Linked DNA regions of Homo sapiens: region 2 is linked to region 1. The links come from fine-mapping of genetic effects on gene expression. A gene starts in region 1. The other region holds a variant in brackets. All regions are shown on one strand. Distances are between the middles of the regions.

What was found. PIP is the estimated chance that this variant, and not a neighbour inherited with it, causes the effect.
Region 2: its variant is the best candidate, but not a certain one, in a credible set for the expression of RNF182 in substantia nigra (GTEx, PIP 0.88).

The regions. Positions count from the first base shown.
Region 1 is chr6:13,922,524-13,927,913 of GRCh38, reverse strand. It overlaps RNF182 (ring finger protein 182), which reads right to left and starts at 2,962. Exons shown (of 3, transcript NM_152737.4): 1 at 2,891-2,962. RefSeq lists an enhancer at 3,567-4,067.
Region 2 is chr6:13,893,515-13,898,904 of GRCh38, reverse strand. No RefSeq gene overlaps it. Among named protein-coding and RNA genes, the nearest start is that of RNF182, 29 kb to the left of the region's middle. The variant A/G (reference allele first, on the strand shown) is at 2,227.

The sequences.
Region 1 (5,390 bases):
GGGCCACACTATTCTCCCCAGCCACAAATCTAAATCTAAGTGTTTTGGTAATGAAGAAATCATTTAAAAACTACCATCCTTCACAAATGTGCTTTTATAAATGCTACAACACATTGCACTAGATGCTAAATTACCAACCAGTAATCATGTTATCACAGTGCAACTAGAAATTGCAAGAGAATGTTGACCCAGAAACAGTCAATAAAGGCTTCAGTGGCTTTATTTAGGCTGCCTATGCAGGCTTATATGGTTACAAACAACTGACTTTCAATGGCACAAACATAATGTTAATCCTAACTTAAACAGGAACATTTGTGGCTTTTTTTTGTCTTTGGATATGCTTCATAAACTGAATTACAGAATTCTTTCAGGTAGAATACAGCTATGGTGACAATTATCAGGCCATATTTTACAGCTTATACCAAAAATTAGGACCAATTTTACGTCATAAAATTAAAACCCGTAAGCTAAAATGCAGGAAAAGACTCCTACTCCCGTGAATCAGCAAGAGTGATGACTAGTATTTTACACCTGGGGATATGCAATGCTGTTGCCTGCTTCCACCAGGTGGCTAAACCATGGACAGAAAACACAATTGCTGTTTGCATTTTCTAAGGACATATTGCAGATATCATAGTATTTTTTCTTTCATTATCTGGTTATGCACATACCTCAGAACACTAGTAACACATATAAACATGCCAGATTATTGTTTTCCACTGCACTGACACAAGCTTCATTTCATGCTTCGGAGCTCTTATTAATAAGCCACTACAACCAAGCAGTGCATGCAATACATGATTGTTGATTTCTGTATACCGACTTTATTTTTTGGCAGAAAATGATGCAGCTCTGAAGAAGCCAAACTATATTGAATGTTGTGCCCGTGTGAGCTAGCAGCAAAGGCAAAGCACCGGTCCTTACTGTGCTAAATTCACCATGGATATCTCCGTTCTTCAGCACTCAGATTAAGGGCCACAACATAAATGTTTAGGCTAGAACTCACAGTGTGGGTTTCATCTGGCAGAAAGCACGGACCAAGTCCTTGAACTTGAATACTGGTTTTGCTAACAAAGATCTGAATAAAGCTGTTCTGTTGGTCCCTCAGGAAAAAAAAAAAAACACACACACACACACAAACACACAAAATAATTTATTTTTAGTACAAAACATAAAACTACATTCTCTGTCTATATAATGTGCCTAGGCTTCAATATCCTATTTGCTGTTCATGCTTAAGTGAGAAAATACTTTTCTCTCCCGTTTATCTTCTCAAAACAGATCTACTTCGTTTTAATCAATGTACGATTTTATTACCGTCATGAAAGAGTATTTAGCAGAGCATCTGTGAATCTTCCACAGGTAAAATTCAGTTTAAAAACAAGCCCAATTGTGAAATAACCTGCAAACTGTTAATTGCAACTTCAATCCTTTAGTTTCCAATACAATCTTCTAATGAAGTGGCATTACTTGAAGTTGCTGGCAAATATGAACAGACTGAGAAACCTAGTAATCAGCAGGCTAACAGGTGTTGAAATCCCAAAAGAGGGAAGAGGAATATTAAATAATCACTCTTTGCCTGACACCTCAAGTAGCTGTAATATGCAGAATTCCAATCAACTTAACTGCAATTCAAAATGATCAGTGGTACTGTTTTCATTAATTACTCTCTAGCAAAAATATAATTTCTTGCATTCCATATAGTTCTTTAAATGACCTATTCCAACTTATACATTATTTTACTAAGTTGGATATACAATTTTATATGTTAGATTATTTTCCAGTTATCAATATGACATCTCATATTGTTTAAATATGATTTAAAACAAATCTTATTAACATATATACAATTTCCTTCTGAATTGATCAACTGTATTTCTGAAAATGTATCTGTTTTCTTTCATATTACTACATGTAAGATGATGTCTAAGTACCAAAAAAAAAAGTCTTCACAGTCACAATTTAAATCTGTGCTTCGCGTCTGCAACAAACTATCACGAAATGATTGCAAGGGTTGGGGCCACTGAGAAAGGTACCTATAACCTATCCAGTGCCCCAGTGGCAACCGCATCGTGGTCCTCATCATCCCACTCATAAACACCGATGCAAACACCGCCCAGCTACCTGCCTCCAGAGGTGCTTTGGATTGCCTCCCTACACATAAAAACAAAAGGCACTTTCCAGTTCCTTACAGCATGAACACAATACCTTCTAGAAACAAAAGCAATGACCTCGGTGCCAAGTATCTCCTTGACAAAGTATCGGTACTGCTCTACATTCTGGTCTTGCTAGTCGGGGAAAGCCGGGCTACCCTTACCATCCAGTTATAGGTGCAACTGCACCTTCCAAAGAAAAAAAGGTCTTTCGATTCAATATCCAAACGAACTTCAGAAGCCTCCTCAAAATGCTTCAGCCACAGGCATAAAAATGGGCTCACTTTTCAGAGATTCGTAAAAATCTTTCGCTTGTCCCTCTTACTACCCTCCCAACCCCTCCTCAAAGAGAATGCCATGAAACATGAAAGTCCAAAGGTAAATACTTTCATACCTTTTTTTCCCCCAAAAGCCTCGATGGCACGCCAAGAAGGAAAATAACAACAACAACAGAGGGGCAGCTCCCTGAGCAGGTGCAGCCCGCGCGGGCGCTCCGCAGCCGCCCTCCGCCGCACAGCCCCTCAAGTTGGTGCCAGGACGGCGGCCCCCGTGGTGCCCGGAGGGAGACTCCGCGCGCGGGCCCCGGCGCCGCTCGGCCCGAAGTTTGCCGCCCCCTCTCCTCGGCGCGCTTGGGCGGCCCGGCGCCGTCCAGGACTGCGGGGCTGGCTGCTGCCCCAGCGTTGGGGAGGCCCGGCGTCCCGCCGACCCCTCCCCGGCCGCGGGCGCGATCGCCTTACCTGGCCGGCGGCGGCCCAGGGCCCGGGAGCCGCTCCGGCTGCGGCGGCGCCTGGGAGGGGAGGGAGGTTCCCGTGGAGGAGGAGCTCGCGCGAGGAGCTAGCGGGCTGGCGGGCGGGCGGCTTTGTCTCTACGGCGCTGAGCCGCCGACCCTGCGTCACCATGGCAACCGCCGGGGCCCCCCCGGCCCTTCCCCTCAGCAGTCCGGGTATTCGGAGAGGACAAGGACCCCCGATGGGCCGCCACCACCACAAACACGCCCCTCTCTCAGTCTCCCTCACAAACCGCCTGTTTCTCCCCAGCGAGAGGGGAAGGCTAAAGCGGAGCGAGCCCAGGGCCAAGTGGTATTCGCATCCTAGTAGGCACTCCTTTGCTTCCCCACACTGGACATTCCAACTCCCGTCGCACCACCATCCCCCCCACAGACACCCTCCACCACTACCACCACCACACCTTTCTCCTGTGGAGCTGTACCCTCAAAATGGAAATTCACTTAAGGGAGGAGAAAGAGCAATGCAAAGTGATAAAGTGTTGAGCAACTGGTACTCGGTTCTCCTGTTGCAACTGCCGCAGCATGCACGGAGCTGCCAAGGGACGCCGTGCCGCCTCCTCCCTCTCCCCCTCCTCCTCCTCTCTCTTTTAGCAAGCTTTGCCTCTGCTGGATGTGGTCTCACTCCACCCAACCCGTGTATCTGTCTTGTTGAGGGCTCCCGTAGGAGAGAGGGGAAAGGGGGCTTTATCTCTGATGTAAACACTGGATACACTTGTAACCTCAGAAGCTGAAACACAACTTTCAGGCTGCAGTATGGATCTCAGCTGCTGCCACACTGCGCAGCTACTGGCTGTGACCGCTAAGCATCTACCATGAGCCCTGAGTGACTCTGTGCCAAGGACTGGTCACGTACTGCAGGCCATGGCACTCAGGAGCAGAGAAAAGAAAGCTAACTTTTTCCTCTCCTGAGGAAATTCTTAGAGAGGGAGAGAAAAGTACCAGCAGACCCTTGGTCATGCTTCCTCTAAAGGACGAACTAGAGGGCAGCCTCCATGGGGGGAGTGAGTCATCCCTCCATACTGTTTTCTTGAAAGATCCGTTGCTGAATCCAAAAGCTACAGTGTCTTTCTTCAAACCCTGGGGAACATGACATTTATTTTTTGGCATTTGTGAATCACCAAAGGAATGTCAATGATTTATAATAAAATCCACGGTAGCTGATGTTTTCTGGGTTTACTACTTGAGAAGCCACAAAGCAGAACAATGTTATTGCCATTTGAAGGTACACCTATATTAACTAATGAAAAGATAAGATCTATTTCATGGTGGAAAAGGAAAACAGTTTGTTCCTCGGAGAGACTGGCCACTTTCTTGTAATGGGAATATTCTGAATGAAGTCAATAATATTCCAGATGAAGTCAAAAGACAAGGTCTTTTTGGCAGGCCATTAAGCATTTGGCAATACCTGCCAGAATTCAAAATGCACATACATTTCTCCCAGCTATCTCAATTCTAGAGATCTGTCATACAGAAACACACAAATGTGTAATGATAGATATAAAAGGATATGCATTGCAGAAGTTTTGTAATAGTAAATGTTTGAAACAACTTATATGCCCATCAATAGTGATATGGTTAAATAATGTGGCACTTCATACCATGTAATACTATGCATCCATTAATAAGAATAAAATATATAAAATTCATAGATATTGATTTCTTATTAAATGGAAAAGGGGGGCTCAGAACCGTATGTGTGGGTGATCCCATTCTGTACAAAAAAACTGGATATATAGGAACAGAACAAAAACATAGGGATAAAGGTCTATAAGAATGCCTACCTAATTGCTAGAAGTGGTAACCTGTTAACTACAAAAAAAATTGAAGGGACAGTTACCTCTTACGATGTACAATTTAGTACACATATTTGGTTTGTTTGGCTTTTTCAAATGAGCATTTATTAGTAATTTATCAATGAAGAAGCAAAAACAAAAAGCTTTAATAAATGTTTGTTGACCTGCATGCACATTACTGCCTGATCAAAAACTGAATACAGAACAGGGAGGGACCATTGACTTGGCCATCCCTGCCCTCAGCTGAAGGCTTGGAAAAGTCCACGTTGTGTCCCCACTTAGAGCATTGCTTAGTGACCTGGTCCTGCGTTATTCTGTGAGACATTCTTCCAGACATTCATTTTTCCAAAAGAGGTTTAGCTTTATCTTAAGGTCTGCTTCCATTCTGCCTCTTGGAGAAAATTAAAAGACTTGTCAGGAAACCATCTTAAAATGTGCCACCTTACTTACCAGGGGATATCATTTGAATAGGTTAAGTGGCAGCTTTTAGTCTGTTTAGCTAAACTGAAACTGAAGATACTAAAGCTTAAAAATTAATGTGTGGATACATGACTAGTCTTTCTTATTCTCACCATTTTTGAAATGAGGTTAAAATAATGAATTTGCTTTCCTAAAAAGATCTAGAGCTGCACAGTCTAATTCAGTAACTGCTAGCCA
Region 2 (5,390 bases), 29 kb after region 1:
CAATTGGTGAAATGCTTAGACAGGCATTTCTTTGCTCATCCTAATCATTTTTCATTCTCAAAATGGTTTCCACACTATTTCTAATGGAAAAGTCCTAGATCATGGCCTTTATTACAAGTGGCAAAAAATTATGACTTATGGTAATATCGCTTAAAATTCAGATAGAATTAAAATCTTTTCCCCTTGCTTAAAAATGCAATATATATTGGTTGCAGAAAATGGGAGAAGGAAAACAAAAATAAAAACCCCACTATAACAAAGAAAATTAAAGTAACCTATAATCCTGCTGTCCAGACAAGACCTCTATTAACATTGTGTTGTATTTCTTCTAAGATGAACTAGTGCATGTGTGTGTGTGCGTGTGTTCATGTGTATTATGTAAATTTGGGATTATACTGTAAACCACTAGCAATTTTTCCTATTATATTGTGAACATAGTCCCATGAAATTAACTATTCCTTAAAAACATGATTTTTAGTGACCACAAATTATTTTATTGTAAAATTGAATTACATTTTATTAAACCATTTCCCTATCACTGAGATTTGATCCATTTGGAATTCTTAGGTATTCTAAATAAAACTCCCATTGAATGTCCTTAAATTAAAAGAATTACAATAATGACTAGAGTGAGATGGTAAAGTGGAGCAAGAAACCACAGCAGATCAGCCTGCCTTTCATCATATGGTGCAGCAGGAGTGCAGGAGTGCCCCATCGGCCAACAGATTCGCTGGAAGAAAGTCAACCTTGAGCCATTTTCTTATTGCAATCCACCGGGCAAAAGAACCCAAGCAGCAGAAAGCCTGGTTGCAGAGGTGATGGCAGGCACTAAGGAAGAGTGCAAATGGGCAAGCTGATCCTACTCTCCAGTATCAGGGAATTGTTCCCTGGAGAAGCATTGCTGGCTCTAAAAAACAAAACAAAACAAAAAACATGCATGTAGCTCAAGAGAGCTAGCATTCAGATCCTGCCACACACCTGACCTCAAAGGCCAGTCCATGGAAGCAAGAAAAGCAGAGACAAACAACAAAAAGGGGACTGCACCCATAGGTCATTGAGTAAGAGATGTTTATTCTTTCCAATCTTTCACTGCAAAGGAGCTGAGCCCGAAGTGGGAGAGAGAGAAGGTGTTCCAAAGGAAGGCCATGCGTTTGGACTCCAAGGTGAGAGAGTCTAGAAGAGCTGTAGAGTAGACCAGGGCCCTTCCCTACCCAGGTCACCTGTGAGATCATTAAGTTCTTCCGTGCTTAAGCCACTGCTAGTAGTTTGTTAGTTGCAGCCAAGAACAACCCTAACTGATTCCTACTCCAAGGTGTGGAACATGCCCAGAAATTATGAGATCTGCTCATGAGTCCTGTAGGGAATCCATCTGCCAAAAAGAAAGGGAGGGTCAACATAGTACAGTCTGGAGACAAGGACTCGGAGAAAGATAAGACTATTTCATGTTCACACTCCAGCACATTTGGACTGTTCAATTAACACACGTACAATCACATGTTGAAATCCTACTTCTGCTATTTGCCAGCAGTGTGTCTTTGGGCAGGTTCCTTAATTCTCTGGACCTCAGTTTCCTCAACACTAAAATGGAGGTAACAATATTTATTTCACAGTGTTGTTCTGAAGATTAAACAGGATGATGTCTGTCCAGTGCTTAACATGTTGGCTAGCATACAGTGAGTGCTCGGTAAATGGTAGGTAATAGTACTGGCAAGTAGTGAAGGAGCCTGGGAGCATGTCATGTGAAGAGATGTTAAGAAACCACATGATTGATGTCTTCAAATGTTGGAAAATTTCTCCTATGAAAGAGACTGTAGACAATCTGGTATTGCTACAGAGGGAAAAATGGGCAAAGAGGGAGGAAAATTCAGGAAAAAAAAGTTTAGCTCAGTAAAAATAAAAAATAAAAAAATTGAAAAGGAAGAAGTTCTAGTGTTCTATACAACCTGATATCATTTTGCTGTGTCCCCACCCAAATCTCATCTTGAATTGTAGTTCCCACAATCCCCATGTGTCGTGGGAGGGACCAGGTGGAGATAATTGAATCATGGGGGTGGTTTCCCCCATCCTGTTCTCATGACAGGGAGTTAGTTCTCACAAGATCTGATGATTTTATAAGGAGCTTTCCACCTTTTGCTCAGCACTTCTTGCTGCTGCCATGTGAGGAAGGACGTGTTTGCTTGTAAGTTTCCTGAAGCCTCCCCAGCCATGCTGAACTGTGAGTCAATT[A/G]AACCTCTTTCCTTTACAAATTACCCAGTCTTGGGTATGTTCCTATTAGCAGCATGAGAACAGACTAATACAACCATAGGATGACTACAGTTAATAATAATATATTATATAGTTTCAAATAGCTGGAAGGATATTGAATGTTCCCATCACAAAGAAATAATAAATGTGTGAGATGATGGATATGCTAATTATCCTGATCTGATCACTGTATATTATATGTATCACAGCATCATTATGTGCCCCAAGAATATGTATGATTATTATGTGTCAATTATAAATTTAAAATTAATTTTTTTAAAATCCAAAAAATAAAAATCCTAGTGCTTTGTTTTGGTTTTCCCCCTTTGGTGACAGCAAGAAGCTTAATAACAACCTGAGGCAAACACATCCAAGGAGTAGAATCATCCAAGTTTGTAGGTATCTTTATCCCTGGAGTCTCCCAAGGCATCTACAGGCTTGGGTTCCCATATTTCTGAGGACAACAGGCTGCTTTTCTGGTGAGTACAATGGCCAGGGGTCCAAGCAGAGGCACATAAAACCCCACAAAGCCCACCTACTTTGCTCACTTGCCATCTTTTGACCCTCTCTTCCCTGCTCCTCCTTTCTCAATTCTATCAGCCAGGAACTATAAGTCAGTCTGAAAGTGGGTGGCAGCCACTGCATAGAGGGGAGAGTAACCCCCAGTACCTCAAAATGTGATCTGATTTGGAAATAGGGTCATTATAGATATAAGTAGCTAAGTTAAGATGAAGTTATACTGCAGTGGAATGAGCCTTTAATCCAATATGACTAGTGTCCTTAGAAGAAGAGGTGAAAGAGACACAGAGAGGAGAATGTCATGTGAAAACACAGACACACAGGGAGAAGAGGGCTACATAAAGATGAAGGCAAAGATTGGATTTATGCTGCCACAATTAAATGACCACCTGGGGCTACCAGAAGCTGGAAAGGGTAAAGAAGGATCCTCCCCAAGAGCAGGTCCAGGAACACAGTCCTGCTGACACCTTGATGTTGGACTTCTGGCCTCCAGAATTATGAGAGAATAAATTTCTATTATTTATTGATTGATTGATTTTGAGAGGGAGTCTCACTCTGTCATCCAGGCTGGAATAAAGTGGCATAATCTTGGCTCACTGCAACCTCCACCTCCTGGGTTCAAGCAATTCTCCTGCCTCACCCTCCTGAGTAGCTGAGATTATAGGCACCTGCCAATAATCTTTTTTTGTATTTTAGTAGAGACAGGGTTTCACCCTGTTGGTCAGGCTGGTCTCAAACTCCTGACCTCAGGTGATCCACCCACCTCAGTCTCCCAAAGTGCTGGGACTACAGGTGTGAGCCCCTGCTCCCAGCCAAATTTCTGTTATTTAAGCCATTCAGTTTATGGTACTTTGTTATGGCAGGAAACGAATACACTCTTCCCTGTGCATAATATACCTTTTTTTGGAACAGGGTCTCATTCTGTCACCCAGGCTGGAGTGCAGTGGTGCAATCACGGCTCACTGCAGCCTTTTTTTCCTGAGGTGATCCTCCTGAGTAGCTGAAACCACAGGCATGTGCTACCATGCCCAGCTAATTTTTTTCAAAGTTTTTATAGATACAGGGTTTCACCATGTTGTCCAGGCTGGTCTTGAATTCCTGGGCTTAAGTGACCCTCCCATCTCAGCCTCCCCAAATGCTGGGATTATAGGTGTGAGCCACCACGCCTGGCCCCACACACAATATACTGGAGCTATACTTTAACATAGCAGATCCACACTGTTGGGGTCTTTAAGGTTATGCAATAATGAGCATCCCAGTTCCCCACTTAAGTTTTAATACAAATTAAAAATAAATCAAAAGAATATGCTAATGACTCCCAAACACACATCTCCAACCAGATCATTTATGTTAACTCCATATCAAAAATATTCTCAATTTCCTATTGGACACCTCCATCTCTCATACACACTCAATATTAAACCTATATTACAGCAATTACTCCAGGAAGACTCCTTTCTTCTAAACTTACTACCACTGTCTTAGTTCAAACTCTTATGGTTTCATTTAACTTAATTAAACTGAAATTACCATCTGACTACTCTGTTTCCAAATCTCTTCCCATCCTTTATTTCACCCAATTTATCTTCTTAAAAATTAAATCTGATAAAAAAGCATAAAGTAACAAGAAATATATCTAACAAAATGTGTATGAGATCTTTAAGTAAACAGCAATACACCTTTATTGAACCACTTGACAGAAAACCTCAAGAAATGAAGAGATGTACCAAGTTCATGTATGGATGAATACAGTATTCTGCAGATTAGTTTCTAAATACATACCATTTCAATAAAAACTCTATGACATTTTTGGTGAGACCTGACAACCTGATTTCCAAATACACGAGGAAGACAAAAGGGACAAAAATAGCCAAGATAATTGTGAAGAAAAACAAAGTTGGAAGATTCGCCATACCAAGCATGAAGACTAGTTATATATCTTTGGTACTCATGCAGAGATAGCCAAAAATGAAACACGATAAAAACAGCCCCATGCTTATGTGGACACTCAATATATGTCAGAGATGTCATGGCAAATTGTCTGTGTTTGGGGACATGGAGAGGATGTATTAGATTCTTTGGGCTACTAAAACAAAATACCACAGACTGCATAGATTAAACAACAGAAATTTATATCTCACAGTTTCGGAAGCCGGAAGTCCTAAATCAATGTGTGAGTAGGTTTGGTTTCTCCTAAGCCCTCTCTCTTTGGCTTGCACATGGCCCCCCTCACTCTGTCCTCACATGGCCTTCTCTTTGTGTGCATACATCTGCGTCCTCATCTCCTTTTCTTATAAAAACACCAGTTCTATTGGATTAGGGCCACATCCATATGACCTCATTTAATTACCTCCTTAAAGGCCCTATCTGCAACTTTTAGAAGATAGTAGGAAATCTTTATGACCTCTGGACCAAAAGGATTTCTTTAAAAAGACTACATTAAAAGTAAAATTTCTGTGTATCAAAAGACCCTAGAACATAGTGAAAAGTGAAAAACTCAAAAGGACTAAATGTCTATCTACAGGAATAAATAAATTATGGTTTGTTTACAAAATAAAATCTTATACAGCAATGAAATGAATAAACTAGTATTACATGTATCAACATAGATCAATCTCAAAAATATA